Linked DNA regions of Homo sapiens: region 1 is linked to region 2. A link means that fine-mapping ties the variant in region 2 to the expression of a gene that starts in the linked region. Tissue or cell type: whole blood. Region 2 holds a variant in brackets; the other region holds the start of a gene. All regions are shown on one strand. Distances are between the middles of the regions.

Region 1 (8,099 bases), 36 kb before region 2:
TGTCTCTTCTCTGCTGACTGAATATTCCTCTTTGGATTTTTCCTTTGTCTTACTTAACTTGGCTGGCCCTACTTAGATCTTAGCAATTTAGGTAGGGTTGATCAGATAAAAATGCACGTAGAATGATTAGGATAGAAAGCAGAGATGTAGGCATGGGATGCTGCTGGGAGCACGACCCTCAGGGCTAAGAAGGTGGTGGCAGTTCTGAGAAGTTCTCCATTCACAGTGGGCTGAACTGATGTATGGAAGGTGGTGATCTCTGAACTGGTCTAGGAGGAAGAGGCAGGCACTTGAGGGGAATGTCCTGGCTGAGGTTTGGAGGCAGGCAGAGCACTGAGGGGAGGGTGAGGCATGGCCTGGGCAGCCTGAGAAGTGTCTTCTTGGCACTCCTTGCCTGACATGGTCTGCCAAGAGTTGGGCCAGGTATAGTGACTGTCGTGCCTGTGCCTGTGAGATAGTCACAGTGGGCACATGGTATGTTGGGGGTCCCAGATATGGGCCCCAGACCTGTTTTTATTTGCCCATATCCATCCTCCTTAACTTTTGAATTATTTGCCAATATTTTAAAAGAGAGAGTTTCAACAAAGAGTCAATTTTCTTTTCTTTTTTTTGATGGAGTCTCGCCCTGTCACCCAGGCTGGAGTGCAATGGCGCAATCTCAGCTCACTGCAACCTCCACCTCCCAGGTTCAAGTGATTCTCCTGCCTCAGCCTCCCAAGTAGCTGGGATTACAGTTGCGTGCCACCATGCCCGGCTAATGTTTACATTTTTAGTAGAAATGGGGTTTCACCATTTTGGCCAGGCTGGTCTCGAACTCCTGACCTTGTCAGATAAAAATGCATGTAGAATGATTAGGACAGAAATCATTGACCTTGTGATCCACCCACCTCGGTCTCCCAAAGTTCTGGGATTACAGCCGTGAGCCACCACCCCTGGCCTCTTTTTTCTTTTCTTTTCTTTTTTTTTTTTTTGAGACAGAGTTTCACTCTTGTGTCCCATGCTGGAGTGCAGTGGTGCGATCTTGGTTCACTGCAACCTCCGCCTCCTGGGTTTAAGTGATTTTCCTGCCTCAGCCTCCCAAGTAGCTGGAATTACAGGCGCTCGCTACCATGCCCGGCTAATTTTTGTATTTTTTAGTAGAGATGGGGTTTCACCATATTGTGCAGGCTGATCTTGAACTCCTGACCTCAGGTGATCCACCTGCCTTGGCCTCCCAAAGTGCTGGGATTACAGGCATGAGCCACCGTGCCCAGCCCTCAATTTTCAGCTTCTCTTGAAAATCATACTACCTTTCACTACTGGGTTTACTTCTTCATGGTTCCATGGGCTGGAGCTGAGTCGAAATTGCCTTATAGACAGCACAGGGTTCTGCAGACCCCAGCCCACCCACTCCCCTCGTTCTCATCAGTTCCAAGTCTCTGCCCCCTGCAATAGGTAGTAATGGTGGTAGGCAATAGGAATTGTTGCTGCTGTTAGTAGCCAGGAGGTCTGAATGGCCACCAAGCTCTGAGGCCTCAAAGAAGGGGTGGGATCTAGCATGGAGGGGGCTGTTGGGGATTGAATGCCCTCTGAGAGCTACTTCTAATCCTAAGAATTGGGATTCTTGGATCATCGTATCTGTGAAAGGAAGTGAACTGTGTGTGGGTGACCTCACGTCTGCATATGTTATCTCCTCACGGAATCCTTCTATCTCCCACAGGCCTCTTGTTTGAGGTGGGTCACTCCTGTGAAGGCCATGTGTAGCCATGGAATCAGGGCTGAGGAGGAGGTCAGATAACTCTGGAGAATGGAAGGATGAGTTAAGTTGGACCCTGAAAGGTGAGAGGCTTTAGTTGGAATGTTGGGGGGATTGCCCGGGGCTTCTGCCACTGCTTCAAGACCATGAATCTCAGGTCTGTGTGTATCCATTTCTTTCATTCCAAAAGGAGCCTTCTTGGATTGGGCTGTGCCTCAGCTGTCCATGGGGCTCAGGAAGTGATCCTTCTCAAGGTATTTTTCTTATCGATAGAAGCCCTGCATCATTTCTTCCTCCCTCCCCTGAATGTGGAATCATGGAGAAGGGAGGGACAAGAATGTGCCTCCCCATCAGACGTGTCAGCATCCACATGTGTTGCTTCCTCTGCTGGTCCACTTCCCATCACTGGCTGTGAGTGGGAATTGTGCCCCTGTTCTTGGTCCAGGCTCAAGAGCCAGCCTTGGCCTCCAATGAGGCAGGCAGGCCTCTGACACCACCTATACCATTCTGACTTGATTTTCCTATGCTGCCTGAGGCAGGAAAGTCCATGCCTAAACTCTGGTCATAGTGCCTGCCCCACAGTCTAGCTGCCTTTCCCTTTATAAAGTTATTGCCTCAAGTCATGGGCTTAGTTCTCTCCTCCCCTGGCTGCCTGCAGCCAACCGAGAGAGTGGGCTGCCATCTCGCCTGGCCCTTTGTCCCCAGGTTGGCTGGCTTGTGGGGAGGATGGTCTTAAGTACTACTTCCTTCCCCCCTACCCCCCAGTCTGGAAAAAAAATTATCTGGCATCTACCCCAGTTTCCATCTGCTACTCTGTTGATTGGGAGATTGAGCCCATTCCCTGGTCTGCCCTCCTACTCAGCACCTGGTGACCTGGGCCCTATCTAGGTCCTTCTGGGGATGGTTTGGACCCAGACTTCAGCCACAGACAGGAGGCAGCAGTGCCAGGGTACATCACACAGAGAGAAGTCAAGGGTGTGGGTCCTTGAGAAACCACCTGAGTTTCAATCCGTCCTGCCTCTAGTTGTGCGATCCTGGCACTTCACATCCCTTGTCTGTGCCTTGATTTCTTCATTTGTAAAGGGAGGTGACTAATAGCTCCTATCTCATAGGAGTGCGAAGATTGAATGAGTTGGGAGAGGCTATGAGATGGCACAGCACATAGGAACCACAGTGTTAGCAATTGTTATTGCAGTCAGAAAACCCATCTTCGTTCTACCATTTACCGGTTGACCTCGGGCAGGTCCGTCCTTGTCCCTCCCTGTACCTCAGTTTTCTTCTCTGCAGTGGAGTTACGCTCCCTCCCTCAGTGAGAGGAAGAGAGTGGAGGACTGGCAGAGATGAGGTAGGTGAATGTGGGTTATGTGTTGTGAGTTGCCATGCACATGGGCAGTGTTATCATTGATTTTGAATCCATTTGAATTCTTAGTTCCAAAAGGCAGAGACAGGTGATTTCTTAGTTTGCCCTAGCTTTGCATAGAGAGGACAGACACTGAGGGCAATACCTGTCTAGCAGGTGAAACCGAATGTCCATCTTAGAGGCTGGCCTGGGCCAGGCTCCACTGCTGGCTTCAGGGCCACAGGCTTAGGTGCAGGCCTGAGGAGGAGCTCTTAGACTGTCCACAGCCTCCCTCTCTGGGGCAGTGTGCCCCTGTGTATCAGGAGGCTGTTGGCTTCACCCAGTGGGCCAGGAACCTCACTCTGCACTGTCTCTGGAGGTACCTTGAGTTTACCTTCCTGGCCTGCTGGGGTGCCTCAGGACTCTGAGGGAAGAAGGAGGGGACAACTGGAAGCAAAATGTAGAATGGTAAAGCCAAACTTCTTGGTAGCAAAACTTTCCTGGTTCCAGGAGGTAAAAACAACAACCAAATGGTCCTGGCCCCATGGAGCAGGGCAGAGGGCAGAGGGCAGCCAGCCCACCGCCTTTGCTGGTGTCTGCAGTGCGTGAATCGTGTCTAGGTCTGTGAGTTCTGAAGGTTGGATGTTCACCTCTACTCCTTCCTCGGCCTGTCTCCTCTCAGTGCAGCTAGACATCCAGTAAACACTAGATAAGTACTTACTGAGCTGGGTGGATTTTCCATTCATGGTTCCCTGGGGCACAAGTGGAAGTGGTAGGTCTGGGCCCTGTCTGGTCTAGAGAGAGGAGACCCTTTTACAAAGGGCAGGCACGTAGTTCTGAGAGGAGGAGCTGATGGCAGAGCTGGCTGGACTGCTCAGGTAACTGCAGAGGGTCTGGGCCTGGACCCCCCAAGGGAGTCCCCACTGAATGGTCAGGTTGCCTGAGATAGCTGAGCCCTAGGCACTTTGCGGGCAGAGATCCCCTTAAGCTGCTTTGACCCTCCCTCCCCCACAGTGAGTGGGGCACGGGGGATGCTCCCCTCTCTACTTGGGGAAGGGGCCTTCCTAATTATATCCCCCTCCACTCACATGGAAATGAGTTTGGATTTTCTGAGCGTACACCAGCTGGCTTGGGGGGAGGCAGCCCAGAAGGCTGCTGGCTGGGAAAGGGAGGAGAAAGGAGAGGGAGGGGAAGGAGCCAGGCCAAGATGAAAAATTTCCAGTGTTCTCCCAGGCAAAGCAACAGCGGGTCCCTGAGTGCTCCCCACATATCATCGTTGTGCCTGCTGGTAGGCTCAGCAGGGAGCCGTGTCCACTTAGGCGAACGCATCCTCCGAGGACCATAGTCCTCAGGGTGCGAACCACTTAGCTGGCCATAGCAAGGTTGTTGGGTGTTGGACTCCTCTGCGCCCTTGGAGAGAGGTCCTCCACGACTTCTACGCCAATCTTTTTACGGGGTGCGGGGAGTGGAACTGAGGCCCAGAGAGGGGATAGGGCCTGCCGCCCCTGGCAGAAGACCACAAGTCTGGCTTGTCCGCAGCTGGGCTTTCCCCGTAGAGTTGCCCGGGAGAGGGTGGCGAAGGTTCCCCCAGCAGTTCCGCTCTCGCTCAGGAAAGCCAGTGAGGCGAGAAAAGGCTGCGAGGGGCGGGGGGAGGGGCGGGGTGGGGTCAGCGCTGGCTCCGCCTCCTGGCGCTTGGGTCTGCCTGCGGCCGGGCGCTGGCTCAGTCTCGGCTGATTGCCGCTGTCGCTCCCGGGGCCACGGGATGACGCCTCCTCCGCCCGGACGTGCCGCCCCCAGCGCACCGCGCGCCCGCGTCCCTGGCCCGCCGGCTCGGTTGGGGCTTCCGCTGCGGCTGCGGCTGCTGCTGCTGCTCTGGGCGGCCGCCGCCTCCGCCCAGGGCCACCTAAGGAGCGGACCCCGCATCTTCGCCGTCTGGAAAGGTAGGCGGCGCCGCGCGGCCGGTCAGGCGCGGGATCAGACGCTGCGCGGGGCGGGTGCGGAGTGTGCTGCACCCGGAGGGAGTGCGTGCGCGCAGCTCTGCGGGTCCCGGGCTGTCCCCGCGCTGTCCCCGCGTGGAGCGTGTGGGTTTGGGTGAGTGTGTGTGAGTGTACACGCTGGCACACCAGAGCCGGCTGTAACGCTGCGGCGAGCGAGCGGCGGGGGCCGGAGCCCCGGCTAAGTCGCACCAAGTCCCTGGCAGCCAGGAGCCGCAACGCCCGGGCGCCAGGGGAGGGGGCGGGCCCCTCTCTCGGCCCCGAGCCACTCTGGGTCCTCTGGCTCGGGGGCTTCGGCGGAGGACCTTTCCCCGCCTGGGACCCCAACCCGGGTACCCTCCTTTTGAGCTGCGGGCTCTGCTGGCGCGCGGGGCGCAGGCTGGGCCGGCAAGGGGGGCGCGGACCCCTTGCCGCCGCCGCCGCGCTTCGGCAGCGGGAACAAAGACCCCGCCGCCTGCCCCCGCCCCCGCCCCGGCCCGGAGCTCGGGCCAGGCAAGGGGGTGGGCATCCTGCAGCGAGCGGCGGGACATGGTGCGGTGCGGCGGCTTGGGGTACCAGGGCGCTGCCTCAGCAATGCCGGGACCGGCCGCTCCCCCCTTGCCCGCACGTGGCAGTTGTCACCAGAAATCGGCTCCAGCGTTGGGGGGCAGTGCCCGTTGGGTGGGGCACGGCCGTTGGGACCCCCAGGCGGTGGATCTAGGGCGGGGGTGCAGCCTTTAGGCCAGGGTAGATAATAAGAACCTGGGGGACTGGAGTCTCCCCCAGGGCACCTCAGTTTAGACCCTGTACTATGGGACAGAAAGCCGGTTAGGCGGGGGTTTGAGGCTTTCTGCCGCGAGGAACTGATCTCCCCTCCCCTGCATTGCACACAAATGCCTCCCCGCCCCCAGTCCGATTCGGCTCTGTCCCCAAATTTGGCGTGTCTGCGGCCCCCCTGTCGTGATGGTGGGGGACTCGCAGTGGGGGCTGGGGGAACTGGTCGGGTCTGGCCCCACCGGGAGCCTTTTGATGCCTTTGGCAGTTTGCAGGGATTGCGGGAGTCTGAGCATTATCTGGGGCAGGTATTATTAGCAGAGGGGAAAAAAAACCATACACAAAACGAGTGGCCCGAACTGCCGCAGTAGCTGAGGGAATGTGACTTGCCCAAGGTCACTGAGCAGTGTGGGAGCCCAGGTGCAGGCAGGGGCTCTGATCTGGCACAGGACCAGTCCAGGTTCTGGGTTAGGGAGGGGAGAAGGATTTAGGTGGTTCAGGGACCATGAATGAGGTGCTCTGGGGACCAGCTCGGCTACCCAGCCTGAGGTGCTCCTGGAGGAAGCCGAGCAGTGCTGCTAGAGCTCCGGCCGCCTGTACATGGAGGAGGCCTGCACACCCCTCTGCCATCCCAGCTCCAGCCCAAGCTTCCTTTGCCCTCCCAGCAGCTTTGCCTTCCCTCAGTCTCCTTGGCTGTCTTGGACATCATAGCGTGTGGGCACTCTGGAGGGGACAAATGGCCACATCTGAGTGTTCTGGAATCTTTCCCTCCATCAAACCCCTTGCATTTTGACTCTGTTTGCCTGTCCCAAAGTCTTCCCATGACCCCCCACCCCCACCCCACTTAATGCACACCCACTTCTTAGCACTTAATGCATACATCCCATCCTGGGCACTTAGTTCCCACCCTGAGGCTATTTAAAGTTGCTTTCAGTCCTCTTACCCACTTTTCGAAGCTCCCAGCACAGCTCCATGGCCTACCCCCCCGCCCGCAGTTCACTGCTGTAGCCACACTGGCTGTGCCCTCTGCTTAGTAATGCACTGTTGAGCCCCGCTGGCTGGGGTCTGCCAACCGTTCACCAGTCTTGTCCAACGACAGTCTGTGGTCTCCTTCACCAGTGCCAGGTGCCCCACTGGCCAGACAGGCCCTGCCATTCACCTGCCCCCCACCCCCAGGGCCACCAGCTGGTGATGGTGTGCCCGACTGACAGCTGCCTCCTGTCTCCTGTGGGGTGACACATGGCAATCGGACAGGAATGGGCTTGGGTAGGACAAACCCAGGAACAGGGTAAGAGGGGGTCTTTCTGGAAGCCTAGAGCTCTGTCTACCAGTGGTGGGTGGGAGTATGGTGGTATCCAGGAATGACAAAATCAGGGATGGTGGTGGTTCTGGAGCCATTTCTCTATGAGGCATAGATGGGGGTTTTAGTTTTGAGTCAGGACAGCTGTGGGGACTGGAATAGGTATGGAAAGTTCTTTATTTTCTGCTGCTTGGATCCCCAAGTTCTAGAGAAAGATTAAAGCAGGGAACTCTGAGAGGGGCCCAGCCTGCACTGATCAGGGAGATTGCTGCCTCTGCAGCTTGATGAAAGTCTGGCACAGCGTAGCTCAGGCCAGGGAGAGAGATGGGCCATCATGTACCTGCTGGGTGTCCTTGAGCTCCACACTTGTCTTTGACCCTTAGAGCCTGCCAGAGCAAGAAAGGCTGTAGGGATTGTCCCCCAAGGGCTGTCACTGACACATGGGCCAGTCAAGGATGTGCATGTGTGGTCCTGATCTTCCTGTAAGCAGGAACTGTAAGGGAGTAGATTGCAGGTGAGGGCTGGGGCTTAGCAGGAGGTTGGCATGCGTTTGTAAGCTGTGCACCCCTCTTCCATTTTATCAGTGGTTGGAGGAGCTAAAGAAGGCTTGGAACCCCAAGGTCAGAGGTGAACCAGCCTGTCCATGGGGAAACAGAACCCATATCCCCAGTCTCAACCTGCCCGGCTGGTTCTGCCCTCCCTCGCTTTTGTCCAGTGAAACAACGGGATGTTATTGTTGACTTGGTGGCTGCTGGGGAGCCATTCTGGGGCTGCTCCCCAGGGCAGGAGGTTGTTGTTACCTCCTCCAGGGGATGAGGTCACATCTGGGGCTTCCCAAGCATCAGCATTTCCAGTGGAAATCCTTGCCCCCTTGGGGACTTAGATGTGTTCATCACCTTCAAGGTGAACTCCCTCCACAGAGTCTCATGGTGGGGGGGCAATTCCCCGGAGGAGAGGGGGAGTTTCCTAAGCCAAGAG
Region 2 (8,099 bases):
TGCAGGTGACACTGCTGGCCCATGACGGTTCCACATTCTGAGTGAGCAGGGTCCCAGCTGCAGGAAGTGGTGGCGGCAGAAGTCACAGTCACCTTCCTCTCCTGGGGGCCGGCTTTCGGGGAAGCCAGGGGAAATGCTGAGCTCATGGGCTGTTCTTCCCACAGCTGGTTTCCAAGGCCTTTTCTTGTCCCTGACATCTCTCCACAGCCTCACCACAGCCCTCAGAGGCGGAATGCCATCGTGGGCATTACTGTCCCATTAGGCAGAGCAGGTGCAAGGCCAGCCTCTTGCTCTGAGCTACCTGCCCCTTCAGAGCCTGGCCTAGAACCTGGACTCCTGCCTCTTCCCACCTCCACACAACACCCTCCCCCAAGGAAACAGGGGTGGGTGGAATCTAGAAGCTTCTCAGGTGAGGTGAAGGTGTTGGGAAGGCATTAGAACTTGAGGTTTTCTCACCTCCACCAGCCCCTCATTTCCCAGCAGATGTGAGACCTCCTTGGTGTGCATGTCAGCCCGTGATAGGTCAGTCTCAGGACGTTTCCCCCAGCATGGGGCCTGTCAGAGGAGCTCCCCCTCCCCAGCCACCACAAGAGCCCAGTCACTGGGAGCGCCCCTGCACCCTGGAAGGCATCCGAGGGATCCAAGCCCATTCCTCAGCTTGAGGAAATGGCAGCCCCTGCAGAGGGCCCTGACTGGCCCTGTGAGTGTGGAGGTGGGGGCGTCCTAGCCCTGATACATCCTTTCCTGAACTCCACCCCAATCATGGGTATAAACACAGGCAGAACATCAATGAAGTGAGAGGAGAGTTGTCTGCCTTGGCAGCCAGCACCAGGGAAGATGGAACTGTGGCTTGTCTACCTGTCTGGCCTTCTGTTGTTCTCTGTCTCAGTCTCATTCTGTTTCCCTGTTGGTCTCTGTTTCTATTCTCTCTCTCTCTGTCTCTCCTTGTTCCTATTTCTCTCTCTGGCTTGACCTCTTATGCTCACTTACACAAAACAAGCATGCATATATACAACAGGTGGGCACATGGGACCACACGTATGACCTGCTCACCCATACACACGTACAAACATGCACATCTGTGCACACATGCATCCACACAGAATCCTCCCTCCTCAGATCCTGTATGTATATTCAGAGAAGGGGGTGGTGGTGAAGCTCTCTTTCCATGTATCCACAGGCTCAGGGAGAACCCACAGTTAATTTCCAGGCTGTTTCTGCCTCCCTGTCACTGGCAACTGGGAGCTTGGAGGAATAGGCTGGGATCCCCACTGATATCTGGGACTCTGGTGGGGATCTCTGGGCCATCATAACCTGCCAGTGAAGAGCATGAGAGGGGAGGGGGAGTCTCCGGAGGTGAGCAGAAGGGACGAGATAGGAAGATGAGATGTTGAGTTAGCAGTGCACTGGCCTGGAGGGCTCTCTGGCTCCTTCCCCTCCTGATGCTCTTCCTGGTGGTCCTGCTGAGATGCCCTATGACCCACCTGAGAGCTGGGGACCAGGGACGACTGGACCACAGGAGGCCCCAGAGGGAGGCGCCTGCAGGGAGGGAAGCCTCCTCAGTCATTTGCCCCACCCACAGAAAGCTGGAGGCTGGACGTCCCTAGGGTGTGTGGCCATGAGGAGAGAGCCTTTATTCCTGTCCTTTCAGGACAATGGGCCAGATGAGGCCCCACCAGGTACTTGGGTTTCCTGGGTGGGTCGGGGCTTTCCTGGAATGCTCAACCTTCCTGGTGTCCCAGGGTTGAGGTAACTGCATGGGAAGAGGGTAGGCAGGAAGCCCTTACGGTCTGTAAGGACCTGTCCTGCCCTGGAGTCTGGGTTCAGGTGGTCATCAGAGCCTGCACGCCTCCACCACTCTCAGCATGTGGGCCTGCTCCCTGTTCAGAGCAACCCCCTTACTGAGCACCTGTGTGGTGCAGGCTGTGCTGGGAGGAGGCTTGTGAAGAGCAGGTGAGCTAGGACTGGGCACCAGAGAAGGAGGAGCCCCTTTCGCTGCTGGGGCAGGAGCTAGAGCCCCCACGGGCATGTTTTGGTGTGGGGACAGATTCAACAGGAGCCCAGGGATCTTTCTGAAATGTGACACTTGCCTCCACCCTCCTTGCCAGAAAGGGACATTGCTCAGCCACCTGGCTCAGCTTCAATAAGCAAGTAGTAATAGTGGTGAACAAAAGCCAAATGCGTAAGTCACGCACCTGCCCGGGACTGTTCTGAAACTTTGTGTGAATTGTCTTGGTTAGTTTTCTCACCAGCCCTTTGAGGTTGATACTATTACTATTGTCTCCATTTCATAGTTCAAAGAACTGAGGCTGAGAAAGAGTAAGTAGTTTACCAAAATTTCACAACAAAAAGATGCATCTAATCTTTGTCCTCAAGAAACAGGGGTTCTACTTTTACTTTTTTTTTTTTTTTTTGAGATAGGATCTTGTTCTGTTGCCTAGGCTGGAGTGCGGTGGCACGATCTTGACTCACTGCAACCTCTGCCTCCCGAGTTCGAGTGATTCTCTTGCCTCAGCCTCTTGAGTAGCTGGGATTACACCACGCCTGGTTAATTTTTTTTTTTTTTTAATTTTTAGTAGATACGGGGTTTCACCATGTTGACCAGGCTTGTCTCAAACTCCTGACCTCAAGTCATCCACCTGCTTCAGCCTCCCAGAATGCTGGGATTACATGTGTGAGCCACTGTGCCCGGCCCAAGCTCCTGCTCTCTTTGCTGGGTTCGCGGTTAATACAAGTGATACACACAGCAGAGAGAAGCAGTCAGGTGGGCCACTCTGGCAAAATGGCAAAGATCAGGTCTGGGACAGAGTCTGCCCCAGTGACCAGGGTTCCCTACACAGAGTCCATTAGCACCCGAGTCTTGGACCTCAGAGGAAGATGATGGGATCACTTGTTCCAAGACACCCTGAGGCTCTGAGACAGGGAGGTCACCTGTCAATCTGTCCTACTTGGGACCGAGGTGGGCTGAGAGGCCCTCTGCTTGGGCTGCAGGGCCCCTGCAGGGGTTGAGGATCAGCTTTCTCCTCTCATTGGTTCCTGCCAGAACCATCTTAGGGAGCAGCTGCTGTGGGGGCTGCTCTCCCACAGCAGGGAACCCACATCCTGCCCCATTACAGCAAAGTGAGCATCCGGT[G/T]GGGGAAGGACCCCCACGGGGGGCCTGAAGCTGATGAAAGTTGAGTCAGGGTGACTCAGTGGAAGGCCTCTTCCCACTGCTGTCTCCAAGTGGAATACTGTGGTCAGACCAAAGGAAGAACTTCCCAACCTCTGGTCCCACATCTGGAATGCATGCCAAAAAGGGGTCTCTGAGAGAACATGGCAGTTTGGCAGTTCTCAGGCTCTGTCATGCTACATACTGACCTCAGAAAGACCCCGGGAGGCAGACTGCAGATGGGGAAACTGAGGAAAGGGACAGGACCTGTACCAGAGCTGGGACTGTAGCTGGACCTTGAGTCTGCTCATCATGGGGGCACCTGCCCAAGGAGAGGGCAGCACCCCACTGCAATGCCCCCTATGTTTCCCCAGAGCCCCTCTCCTCCCATCTGCTCCTCAGAGGCCTTGTCTCGAGGTAGGAGTGGAGTGAGGGGGTGGGGGTTTCCCTGAGCAAAGAATAGTTCTCCTGTAGGATGCTGTTTTAAGAAACACACAAATAGACAAGCCACCCAGCCAGTCAGACAAGTTTGGCTTTCCAAACCTGTCCCTGGGGTGGCTGTTGTTGCCTTTTTATTTATTTATTTATTTATTTATTTATTTATTATTTATTTATTTATGTATTTATTGAGTAAAGGTTCATATAACACAAATTTTGCCATTTCAAAATGCACATTGCAGTGGTTTTGAGTATATTCATAATGCTCTATGACACCTACCTCTAGCTAACTCTGGAACATTCCATCACCCCCAAGAAACCTCGTGCCTGTTAGCAGTTACTTCCCCTTTCCTTGTCCCCCAACTAATGTACTTTCTGTCTCTATGCATTTGTCTCTTCTGGACATTTTTTAAAAAATTAAATTAAATAATTTATTCAGAGATGAGGTCGCGCTATGTTTTCCAGGCTGGATTCAAACTCCTGGGCTCAAGTAATCCTCCTGCCTGGGCCTCCCAAATAGTTGGGACTACAGGCGTGAGCCACTGCATCCAGCTTCTAGGCATTTCATATAAATGGAATTGTACATGTCACCTTTTGTGTCTGACTTCTTTCACTTAGCATACTGTTTTCAGGGGTTATCATGTGGTAGCCTGAACCAGGACGCCCCATCTTCTCACTGCTGAATGAGAGCTCATTGTGTGGCTAGGCCATGTTGCTTATCTGTGCCTCAGTTGATGGACATGGACATTGTTCCCACTTTTCGGCTGTTATAATAATATCCAGAATAACGCTGTATGAATATTTGTGTACAAGTTTTTGTGTGATCAGATGTTTTCAACTCTTTGGAACATCTATTTACCTGGGAGTGGGACTGCAGAATCCCATGGTAACTCTGTGTTCAACGTTTTGGGCAACTGACAAACTGCTTTCCACAGAGGTGATACCATTTTACATCCCCGCCATCAGAGTGTGAGGGCTCTAATCTTGCCACAGTCTCACCAACACTTGTTATTTTCTCTGCCTTTATTCTTTCAACACACACACACACACACACACACACACACACAGAGAGAGAGAGAGAGAGAGACATTGAGACAGGGTCTTGCTCTGTCACCCAGGCTGGAATACAGTGGTGCAATTTTGGCTCACTGCAATCTCCGTCTCCTGGTCTCAAGCAATCCTCCCACATCAGCCTCCCGCGCAGCTGGGACTGCAGGTGCATGCCACCACACCCAGATAATTTTGTGTATCTTTTGTGGAGATGAGGTTTCACCACATTACCGAGGCTGGTCTCGAACTCCTGAACTCAAGAGATCTGTTGGCCTTGGCCTCCCAAAGTGCTGAGATTTCAGACATGAGTCACTGTGCCTGGCCTTCAACACATATTTTGTTGAGCCCCTGCTTGGTGTCAGGCCTGTGCTGGGGTAGGGGATGCAGGGGTCCAGGCTGCTCTTGCAGAGCCAAAGGGACATAGATGTGACCCAGTGGTGGCTGGTGCTGAGTGGAGGGAAGGAGGAGGTGAAGTGATGGGAGTGACCTGCATGGACAGTCAGGGCAGGCTTCAGGGAGGCAGCGTTTGTGCCCTGGGAAGGTCTTGGCTGTTACTGTCCAATCCCAGCCTCTGTCCCTTCCCAAGTCCCCAGGATGAGTGGTAGTCAAGGTGCTGGGTGCCTCAGTGTTATAATGTGAAAAGTCTCAGCCTGGCCTGAAACTCACCCATTAGAGCCCTCACCTGCAGATTCTATGCCCACAGCCCAGGCCAGATGAGGAAACTGTGGCTCAGAGAAGGGAATGACTTCCCAAAGGTCATCCCAAAAGGTAGTGGCAGAGGGAGACCAGATCCCTGATCTACAGATGCCCAGCCTGGGGTCCTTTTAGCTCTGATGGGGTGAGGCCTGGGGCAGCATGAGGCTGGGAGCAGGGAAGATGGGGGAGGGCAGGAGGCTGAGAGAGCCCAGGTGAGAGAGGGCCAAGCTTGAAAGGTTTTCCCAGGCTGGGGGAGAGGCCCTGGTCAGGATGTGTATGGGTAAGGGGTGAGATACAGAGGTCCCTGGGGCGGGCCCAGACCTGTTTCTCCTTTGCCCAGTTTCAGTTCTGTTTTGCTTGTCCCCTTCTGTTTTGCGTTCAGAGTGGGTTGGGGTGGTGGTGGGGTGACTCTTAGCCCCCATCTTGATCCCCATGGTGGGGGATGAGGAGATGGGCTTAACTCCAGACACCACTTTCAGTCCCCCTTTCTACCCCCACCCAGGGTCCCCCAGTCTAAGGGCGGATGCGGGAGGCCTGGCTGGGTCCGTCCTCACAAGGAGGGGCAAGCTGGGCAGAGCCTGGCTGGCCTCCCCTGCTGCCATACCTTGGAGCCCACAGCCTCCAGTGGGTAGTGACTGGCCCCAAATCTAGACATAGGTAATGTTTGCTTAGTGAGCTCATGTGCTATGGGACTAAGTTGAAATGCTCTGCCCCTTACTCATACACCCTTATTGACTCACAGGTCCCCAAGGTGAGTCACGCCCACATCAGGTATTGTGGGTGTATGAGACATACACCCACTGCAAACTGGGATGCAGTTTCCAGTCCCCCTGCCAGCATGCTTAGGGCACCAGGAAGGGCAGTGGGTGCTGATGGGCCCCAGATTTACCAAAGATGACTCCAGTTGGAGGCCTTGGACTGCTGTGGGCTTGTCAGGGGCCTTTGTGGCCCTGGGAGGAGGTGTCTGGGGCTGCTCCAATGTCTTTGGGGTCTCTCAGGTTGGGGTGGATCCTTTGGGAGTGCTGGGCACTGGCAGAGACTCAGGCCGCAGGGAGGGGACTTGCTTTCCCTCTGGCTCCCTCAGGAGGCCTCAGCTGCAGTGCTGGGTGCTGGCTGTCCTCAAACCCATGTCCTCCAGCCCCCTGACGTCTTCTCATTTCCTCATCTCAGGTTTCAGCCCACTCAGGCTGACGTTGCCTTCTGATCTCGTTTTTCAGCAGCCCCCAGGTCTCCGTGGCTGCTGTGCAGAAACGCGAGTGGTTGGGGGAAGTCCACATGATGCTGGCCTTGAAGAGCCTCCTGCCAGCCAGGCCTCAGGAGGGCTCACTTCCCCATTGCAGAACTCCTGCGGAGACCCAGGGGCAATTTCTGGTCTTTAGCACAGGGCCTCTGAGGGGCTGGCTTTTCCTAGGGGCTGCCCTGGTGCTGTGGCACCGTGGGGTGGGGGATTTCGGCAACGCCAGGGGCTCGACATGGCTGAAACTTCTTTGGACAGCTCAGCTACCCCAGGTAGAAGCCTCTGTCCCTCCCGGAGCCAGGCCTGTCCCAGCTTCGAAGTCAGATGTTGGGACATGCTGTATGCCTTTGGGACGAGTAGCCCCGTGGGCTCAGAGCTCTGACAGTGAACCCAGATGGGGTTGCTGTGAGGCACTGGGCGGGTCTAAACAAACAAGGTGCTGTGTGAGTGCATAGGTGCGAACAGGCTGCTCCAAGGGACTCTTGAATTGTCTTTGCGGACAAGTGGGAGTTAGCTGGAAAAGAAGGAGCTGCGTGGTCAGAGGCGTGGAGGCAGGCAGTGGAATAACCCATGTGGAGAACTGCAAGCATTTCCACATGACTGACTGGAGTGTGAGGGGGTGTAGGAGACCGGAGGGCAGGCGGTGGGCAGGGGGCTGGAGAAGGACCCTGAGGGCTCAGCCAAGGAGCAGGACTTTTCCTGAAGCAGCAGAGGCAGAGAGCCAGGCCCCTCCTGAGCCCTCTCACTTCTGTGCAGGGACACCTCCCAGTGAAGTAGGCCTGGGCCTCAGAGGCACCCCGACCCTGGCTGCTGACTCAGCTCTGCCTCTGTGAGGGCCAGTGGGGGGCTGCCCACATGAGCCACGGAGCCATGGCATGGCCTGGGGCTGGCTCTCCTGGGCTGCCCTCCACCCAAGGTCTTGAGGTTCTGCCATTCCCTCTTCAAGGGGTCTGACCATGCAGCCCTAGGTGGGGACGGACCCTGTAGCCTGCTCACTGGTGCCTGGGGTGCCACTGCCAGTCCTGCTCTGGCGCTGATGGGGAGGCAGAGGCAGCCGCCAGAGAGAAGATCCCAGGTGGGGAGAATGTGGGCAAGAGGCCATGCTCCCTCCTGCAGCCTTCATGAAGGCTCAGAGTGTTCTGGAAGTGTTTGGGGGCTGGCCTCATCTCCTCGGCTAGCTCCAACGCCTCCCGGCTCGGCCCCCACATATCACGCTCAAGTGGACCGATCCTGACTGAGGCAGAAAGTAGAACTGGCCCCTCACCATGCGCTCCAGCCCTACTGCTGAAGGAGGCAGGATGGCACAGAGGTGAGGGCGTGAATTCTGCATCACTCAGACTTGGGGCTAGATCCTGGGTCTGGTGGGGAGCACACTGGGCTGGCAAGGCCCGTCGTGCTTTACTAGCTACCTTTGACCCAGTAATCCCACTTCCAGGAGTCTGTCTTACAGAGACACCCGAACGAATATGACAGATGCACACACACCAAGCTGCATACTTGTGATGGCAGAAGATCAAAAACATTAATAGC

What was found. PIP is the estimated chance that this variant, and not a neighbour inherited with it, causes the effect.
Region 1: it holds the start of SEMA7A, and the variant in region 2 is fine-mapped to the expression of SEMA7A in whole blood (TOPMed, PIP above 0.99). The same link has a PIP of 0.9 or more in blood mononuclear cells and fibroblasts.

Annotation. Positions count from the first base shown.
Region 1 is chr15:74,430,656-74,438,754 of GRCh38, reverse strand. It overlaps SEMA7A (semaphorin 7A (JohnMiltonHagen blood group)), which reads left to right and starts at 4,797. Exons shown (of 14, transcript NM_003612.5): 1 at 4,797-5,014. The coding sequence starts at 4,837. RefSeq lists silencers at 4,655-5,164, 5,215-5,364, 5,515-5,634.
Region 2 is chr15:74,395,106-74,403,204 of GRCh38, reverse strand. No RefSeq gene overlaps it. Among named protein-coding and RNA genes, the nearest start is that of MIR6881, 12 kb to the left of the region's middle. RefSeq lists enhancers at 1-118, 1-263, 484-533, 1,263-1,763, 3,044-3,273 and 9 more and a silencer at 29-238. The variant G/T (reference allele first, on the strand shown) is at 3,134.